Homo sapiens: one gene and its partner. Changing the gene in region 2 together with the main gene of any one other region gives a genetic interaction. Each region holds a gene or a part of one and is shown on either strand. Other genes may lie near its edges.

Evidence for each region.
Region 1: changes in RAB2A (region 2) and TRAPPC13 together harm fitness more than expected from each alone (negative genetic interaction), as found in Homo sapiens cells (one large-scale study listed by BioGRID).

The regions. Positions count from the first base shown.
Region 1 is NC_000005.10:65,635,027-65,638,526, reverse strand, and holds part of TRAPPC13 (trafficking protein particle complex subunit 13), read right to left. Parts: intron 3,227-3,500; coding exon 3,158-3,226; intron 2,584-3,157; coding exon 2,484-2,583; intron 832-2,483; coding exon 747-831; intron 1-746.
Region 2 is NC_000008.11:60,588,829-60,594,319, reverse strand, and holds part of RAB2A (ras-related protein Rab-2A), read right to left. Parts: intron 2,463-5,491; coding exon 2,351-2,462; intron 1-2,350.

The DNA.
Region 1 (3,500 bases), on a different chromosome or scaffold from region 2:
AACACATGTGTACCACTATGTCTCTGCCTCTGATTACCATGTCTCCCTTGCCTTGTTATCTGTATCCTCCCATTCTTTCAAGATCCTCTTCGCATTCCCTCTCCCCCAAGAAACCTTCCAGATTGACATAATCTCCAGTGATCTTTCATCTTCCATGTTAATGACATACATTAACAAATACTAAACTGCTATTTAGCTTTGACTAGTACATTTTCTCACCCAAGCAATCACAAATCTTGTGGAATAGGAAAAATGTTTTCATGCCTAACATAATACTTTATAACTGTAGGCATTCATTAGTGCTTGTTAATGACAATTAAAAATTATTGTATCAAACGTGCATTTAATGAAGTGCCAAAAACATAATAGATATAAAAAAACCTTTTTTTCTTTTTTTTTTTTTTGAGATGGAGTCTAACTCTGTCACCCAGGCTGGAGTGCAGTGGCGTGATCTTGGCTCACTGCAACCTTCACCTCCCGGGTTCAAGCCTTAGCCTCTCCTGCCTTAGCCTCCCGAGTAGCTGGGACTACAGGTGTGCACCACCACACCTGGCTAATTTTTGTATTTTTAGTAGAGATGGGGTTTCACCATGTTGGCCAGGCTGGTCTTGAACTCCTGACCTCAGGTGATCCACCTGCTTCAGCCTCCTAAAGTGCTAGGATTACAGGCATGAGCCACCATGCCCGGCCTAAAAAAAAACCTTTGTTAAAGACTAAAATACATCCCAAGTAAGAATGTTACTTACTTTTACTAATATGTCTTTTACAACTTGATTGCTATCATTATGAACGCTGATATAACTGGAAAAGGTCTCTCCCAAAAATATATTCCTGTAAAATAAAATAAGTATTTAGGCAGAAATCCATTCAGGTTTTTTTTCTTTTTTTTTTTTTTTGAGACAGAGTCTCGCTCTGTCACCCAGGCTGGAGTGCAGTGGCACGATCTAGGCTCACTGCAAACTCCGCCTCCCATGTTCACCCCATTCTCCTGCCTCAGCCTCCCGAGTAGCTGAGACTACAGGCACCCACCACCACGCCTAGCTAATTTTTTGTATTTTTAGTAGAGACGGGGTTTCACCATGTTAGCCATGATGGTCTCGATCTCCTGATCTCATGATCCGCCCGCCTCAGTCTCTCAAAGTGCTGGGATTACAGGCGTGAGCCACTGTGCCCATCAGGTTTTACATTAAATAATCTGTTTGAGAATCACTAAGAACTTCAAATGGAGAAACATTTACTGAAGGATAGAAATCTGGTGAAATACTGCTTCAACATTCCTTTGTTCACACTAGGCCACTCATTCATTACCTAGTGCAATTCAAAATACAGACGTAATCTATAGAACATGATATATCTTGGCCTTTGACTACTGTACAAAATGCCAACCTCACTAGAGATAAGACTCATTGAAATTAGACCTATGCTAAAGTCTTAGGATTTGTATCTGAATAGGTTAGAGAGAGCCAAGTTTCCATTCTTGAAATAACTTATTCCCTGAATCTAGAAGAGATCTAAGTTACTGATATTGGGGTATTTTTACCAATTTATTTTATTTCCTAGGTTACTTGAATAAAAATCACCAGTGGTTTTATTTTAGTTTTATACTTTTTACATGAATATATTTCCCAGTTTTTCAAGACACTAGTCAATGACCACATTCTGTAAAACTATAAAAACAATCTGTAAAATTTCTTTTTGTCTCAAATTCTGTCTGTTGCAAACAGAGTGGAACCAGGGGCTTCTACCTTATTATTAATCTAGAATAATAATACAGCTAAGGATAACAGAAGAAATAAATTTAGAGTTCCTAATTAGCTGACAAGTCTGATAACTCATTTTGGGAGAGGACTATGATGCAAAAAAACAAAGACTGGCTTCTGAAAAAGATGTTTACATTAGTAGTTAAAAGACTATGTGGCCATTACAAAATATAGTAAGATCTAAAGAAGAAAGTTAAAATTCTATTATGCTAGGAACCACTATTAACATTTTATTTTGGTATATATCTTTTTTTTTTAATAACAGAAAGCCATAATCACATAGTATGATTTTTTAATAATATTTTTGCCCCTCAAATGTATCATGTCCTAGGCGTGGTGGCTCATGCCTGCAATCCAAGCACTTTGGGAGGCTGAGGCGGGTGGATCACCTGATGTCAGGAGTTCAAGGTCAGCCTGGCTAACATAGCAAAACACGGTCTCCAATAAAAACACAAAAATTAGCCAGAGCGGTGCGCACGCCTGTAATCCCAGCTACTCGGAAGGCTGAGGCACGAGAATTGCTTGAACCCAGGAGGTGGAGGTTGCACTGAGCTCAAATGGCACCACTGTACTCCAGCCTGGGCAATAGAGCGAGACTCCATCTCAGAAAAAAAAAAAAAAAGGTAAATGTATCATGAGCATTTCCCCATCCCATGGTTCTGTTTTGAAAACATAATTTGTAATGGCTTTACAAGGTTTCTTATGTGAATATGTCATTCTTACCCAAAATTCTGTGGTAAAGTCAGCATTTCTCCCAACATTAAAACTTCTGCACCATTAACGGTTGAAGGATCATCTCTCATCAGCTGGTTAAAGAGATCTCCTGAATGAAGAGAAAAACATAAAATTCTAACATCTACCCTTTAAATAACTTTTACTTATATAAAGAAATAGCTGGGAGAGATATTTTAAAAAACAACCTCTTGACAAAGATGATATTTAAAAAGTCTAACTTCTAGATTTTAATACAACAAAGCATGTCAAAAAAATTCTGATCTCACAGGGAATGGAAACTTTAGAAACAAAGAAAAATGTACGTCATGAGATAGAAAATATACTAGAGAAAGCCCCAATAATTCTTAAAAAAAAAAGGGAATGCTAATACATACATTGATGCAACATTTGAGGATAAAGGCAATTTTAATAGTATTATGAATATGAATGTATCTTAAACTGTCTCATACTGCCATAGGATATCAACATAATTTGGACTTGTAGAGTATAAGTAAGGCCTGTTACTCAGATGGCCACCTTTCACATGATACAAAAATAGGCAACAAAGAATCCAGCAAATGGTTAGCATAAAATTTACAGGGCTAGGCTTAGTCCAAGGTAATGCAGGCAATTCAGGTTTCAACCTTTCCCTAGGTGCAAATAGAGGAAAGCATGTGCCATACCAGGTAAGTCTTTCTCTTCACATGTTACTGGGATATTGGTGAATAAAGTAGGCTTAGTCAGCCGCATCACTGTGAAGTAAAAAAGTAAAAGAAAACAAAACATTAATACTGCTTAGGGTTAATATTCTCAAGTCTAGTGTATGACATTCATCCATTTTATACTAACATAAAATATAACCTAAATACTTCCTAAATATAATACTACATACTTCCTAAGGTTATCACACATCAGTGATTTATTAAGAATTGTAATGTTACAAAATAAGCACCATTTATTTACAACCTATGAATTATAAAAATTAAATGTAAATACAATATGCATTCATTATAGAAAAACTGGAAA
Region 2 (5,491 bases):
TCGTCATCATGTGGATTTGTCTGGGTTTAACCTCTTTGGGGCTGTCTTCAATCTGTAGGTTTATATACTTTTTGCCACATTTAAGAAGTTTTCAGCCATTATTTCTTTGAGTATTTTTCAGAGCCATTCCTTTTTCCTCTCCTTCTAGGACTTATGATGCATCATATAACGTCAGCTTTTGTTACAGTCCTATAAGTCCCTGAGGTAGTGTTCATTTGTTTCCTCAATTTTCTCTCTGCAGTTTAGACTAAGTAGTTACTATTGTTCTATCATCCAGTTCACTATTTCTTTCCTTTATCTCCATTCTGCTGTTGAGTCCATTCACTAAGTTTTTTTTTCTAGTGTACAAAGAGCTTTGAAAGAGTTTTAAAATTTCAATTATTGTATTTTTTTTTATTTTAAAATTCCTATTTGGTTCTTTTTTTTATCTTGCATTTCTTTTGCTCAGATTGTTTGTTTGCTAAGACTCTTCTGTTTCAAGCATGTTCCTTGTTTGTTGAGGCATTTTAATGATTGCTGCATTAAAATCTTTGTAAGATAATTCAAACACCACTGTCATTTCACTGTTGGCACCTATTATCTTTTTTTCATTCAATTTAAGATCTTCCTGGTTCTAGGTATGATGAATGATTTTCTATTGAAACATGGGTATTTTAGATACTATGTTATGAGACTCTGGGTCTTATTTAAACCACTGTTTAGTTGGCTTCCTCTCACTCCACTCCAACAAGGGAAATGGTGGTGGTAGGGTGCTACTTCATTACTGCCTGGGGATTGTGGAAGCAGAGCCACAATTTTTTCTGTGATGTTTGGCTACAGTAGAATGGTTACTTTCTAAGAGTGTTCTGGCTTGCGAACACTGTTCTGACCTGCCTATTTCCTGGTTCTCTGGCTAGAAGACTTTCTTTTTCTGTGCCTGTTGACCTTTCTAGGTTGCCTGTTTCTCTAGCACCCAGTCTCGGGTATGTGGCAAAAAGAAAACCAAGGGAAATCATCACTGTGTCATTCCTCTGGCACCAAGGTCTACTAAGGGAAGTGTGTAGTAGGTGCAGTAGTAGGCTATGCCATCTAGGCTTATGTAAGTACACTCTATGATGGTCACGTGACGATGAAATCACCTGGTGACATATTTCTCAGAATGTATCTCCTTTGTCAAGCAACACATGACTGTATAATATTTTACCTAAGAAAGAATTCTTCGGTGAAAATACCAATGCTGTAGAATTACTGTAGTCAATTTTTAGGTTCAAGGGTTAATCAGAAGAGCTCCAAGTATCATTCTTAATAAATATTTACTGACTGCTTACTACATTGAAGGCACATGCTAGCTGTTGCCCAGGACCCTGACCTCTGTTATCCTTACGGCAGTGATTCTTAACTCATTTGTTTTTTAGAACTACTTTCTGTAGTTGCTCTTATAAGCTGTTCTTATCTAGAAATCGGGAACTAAGTATTACTTTGGATAAACTACTACTTTTCTTAGCTTCATTACCTCTTTTTATAAAATAACAGTATAGTAATACATTTACCTTAGAAAGGATCAACTACGTAATCATCTATTTATAATATGTATATACATACTACCTCCAAACACAAACACATAGAGCATAAAAGAATACACTGTGTTCAGAAAAGTTCCAATAGTTCAGGTTCATCAATGGAAATAACTGAAATAATACAAATTTCATCAATAGATGAAACAGAATTCTCATGCTTTGTAAAATGTTACACAGCAATAATAGAATACTTTAAGCAGAAGTGGTGATGTGGTAATATATTGACAGTTAAAAAAATAAATAAAATTAAAAAAATAAGCAGAAGTGGATATAAATAGCTACAAACGTTCTGCTGTCTTGAAACATTTCCAAATTTCATTAGTGTGGTTCCTTGTTTCCCTCCCATGCAACACAAAAAAGATTTCCCTACCATGCAACACGAAGAAGTCCAATACCTTATATCTTTGAGTACAGTGGGTTCCCAGAGAAGCCATTTTGCTCAACATAATTTGAAAGAATAGGACTACACTATTCTCCTCCATTGGCCAGACTGACTTTCTATGAATGTGATTAAAATATAACTCTCAGAAACTATAGGAAATTGTTTAGAAAAAGGGAGGGAGTGAAAATACGTACAAAAATGTAAGAAAACATTCAGGCTTTAGAAGGCTCAATATGATTTAAGAGTCTGACAGAAGGTGAATGTTACAAGGGATTTCAAAGGGAAGAAACTTTCCTACTTTATGATGTTCAAAGACCATCCGACTAAAAACTTAAATAATAAGTAAAATGAAGATATATAAAACATTTCTATTAAGTATAAAGATGAAGATTTTAAAGGGCCTCTTATTTACCTCTTCTACATTGGAAGCAGTCTTAGCAGACGTTTCCATGAAGATGAGTCCATGTTCTCGTGCAAAAGCTTCACCTTCTTCTTTTTTTACTTCTCTTCTAGATTCTAAATCACTAAACATGGGAAAGAAAGGGTCACATTACTAATCAACATGGTACAAACAGAAGCATTTGTGGAAAGTGTACCATGGAATTCAAAGTTGTGATGACCATTCTTTTAATTAATTTTTAACATACTAACTGTATTATTCAGGGTATTATGAGGGTTAGTATTTAGAACACACTGTCTAGTTTCAAAGAACTAACAATCCAACAGAAGAAAGATTCTGTGTTAGAGCTTTAGAACGTTAGAACTAGCCGTAACTTAAGGGAGCCTCTAGTCTAATACCTTATATCTTTGAGTACAGTGCATTCCCAGAGAAGAAAGCCATTTTGCTTAACATAATTTGAAAGAGCAGGACTATACTATTCTCCTCCATTGGCCAGACTGACTGAGTTTCTATGAATGTGATTAAAATACAACTCTCAGAAACTACAGGAAATTGTTTAGAAAATCCAAAGTACTAAAGATACATTACATCATTGATCCCAGTTTGTTTAATTCCCAGTTTCCTCTTAAAGCAAAATTGATATAGACAGAGAGAGAGAGGGAGGGAGGGAGGGAGAAGGAGTAGAGAGAGACAGAAAAGGAGAAACGGAGTGAGAGAGAAAGTGTAAGCTAGAAATTTCCAATGAAAGCAGGGTATTCATTTTTATCATACTAGAATTTTATTAGTGGGGGGGAGGGGAGGTAGCAGTTGCTTTTAAAGCGTGTTTTATTTTTAAAGTTAAAAAACTTTATTATTATATTTATTACTTTTTATATATTATTTATTATTACATGTTTATACATGAAAAAAGATGTATAATATAATGTCCACATACTTCCAGCTAGCCTTGACATATTATTTGCCAGATTTCAGGTTTCTTTCCCTTTAAGAAATAAAATCAGCAACAGCAGAATCACCACCTGTGTGTCTCTGATCCCACTCTCCTCCCTCTTACCCTAAAGGTAACCACTACCTAAATTTGGTGTTTTCATTCTCATGCATGTTTTTGCATTTATCCTCATGTTTATAACCATAAATAGTATTTCTTTTTCATGTCTTTAAAAATTCAGATGTAGCTACTGTTTTACAACTTGTTAACTTTGGTCAACACTATGTTTTTCAAATTTATCCATATAATACATGCAGATCTAGTTTGTTTTTAAACTGGTGAATTACAGTCTACTGAATGAATGCAATACAACTTAAATTCTCTATAAGGCAAAGTTATTTATAATTTTTCATTATTACAAACAATGTTACAATAAGCATTATATATATATGTATTATATATATATAAAATACATATATTAAAATATATGTATTTTACATATATATATAAAATATATATATATATTTGTGTATACACGTGCCAAGGCTTTTCCAGGGCAGTTTTTTTTTTTTAATTTTTTCAGAGACAAAGTCTCACTATGTTGCTCACGCTGGTCTTGAACTCCAGGACTCAAGTGATCCTCCCACTTTGGCCTTCCCAATTGCTAGGACTACAGGACTGAGACACTGCGTTAAGCCTGGGTAGGATTTTTCAAACTGTGTCATGACTCAATGAATTGTAAAAATCACTCAGTAGGAAATAATCAGAATTTTTTTTTAAAAAAAGAAACAATAGGCCGGGTGCGGTGGCTCACACCTGTAATTACGGCACTTTGGGAGGCAAGGCGGGTGGATCACCTCAGGTTAGGAGTTCAAGACCAGCCTGGCCAACATGGTGAAACCCCGTCTCTACAAAAATACAAAAATTAGCTGGGTATGATGGTGGGTGCCTGTAATCCCAGCTACTCAGGAGACTGAGGCGGGAGAATTGCTTGAACCTGGGAGGCGGAGGTTGCAGTGAGCAGAGATCGCGCCACTGCACTCCAGCCTGGGCGACAGAGTGAGACTCCATCTTGGGAAGGGAAAAAAAAAAGAAACAATATAAAATATCAGAGTCTATCACCTATATACATAAGTTCCATCTACTGTTTCATGGAACTTACGTATAAAGGTATAATTTACGAATATTTTGTTATATGTGTAGGTGTATACACAATTTATTTACTAGGTCATGATGTAAAATACATTTCTTACTATAGGTCAAATCAAAAAACTCAAAAGCCATAGTACTTGACGATATACTTAGTGCAAAGTTTTAAAAATACCTCAGTTTTCCAGGCATTACATCATATTGTTGTCTTAGTTCACTCCCTCTGAATCCCACTTAAGTTGCTTAGGTTACTTAAGTATCTTTCTTTTAATTTATGGCCCCTTTTTGTTTAGGGTTTGCATTACAACCCTTACACTATTAAAAAACTTTCATTTTTTAAATCTCTGCTTCCTATTTCTTATATAACCAATTTATTAATAAAATGCCATAGTAAGAAAAATTTGTGTCATCTGTTGCTCTGACTAGGTCACTGCCCTTCACTGGCTCCCTACTGCTTAATGCGTCTAATTCAAAAATTGCTTATTCCCTGTTTTGATGTCTATCCACAGTTCAATTCATCTAAAAATAATCATCTCATTTATTTCTCTCTGTTCTTTCTTGTTCGTTATACTCCTGATTTTAAAGGTCACCCACCTACGATCATCAGAAACATCTCGTTTACATACTATGCTTTGTTTATTTCTTCTCACATTTGAACTATCAGCTCCTAGTGGTCGGTGACCAAATTTAAGCCACCAGTAAGCTGTCACTCATCATGTTTCAGCCACAAGGAAAAAATTGGTAAAATAAAAGGATAAAAATTCTCTTTATTTTCCAAGTATTCTCCTCTTATTATTTCATACCTTGAATGACAGAATAACTATTTCCATCATAGAAAGACTAAAACTTCCCTCCAATAGCTTTATAACCTTAAAAAGGTTTAGTGAGATGATTTAAATGTGGAAAAGAATACCCAAGAAAGGCCTTCAGAGAATATGATAATAGTTTCTTCTCTACACAAAGAAGTAAACAATGTTTAGCTTTTTATAATGTAAATATCACTTAGGTAATATTTTCTCTTAATAGCAAATCTCAATTTCTATTAAAACAACACTCTAAAATCTATACAGTATAAC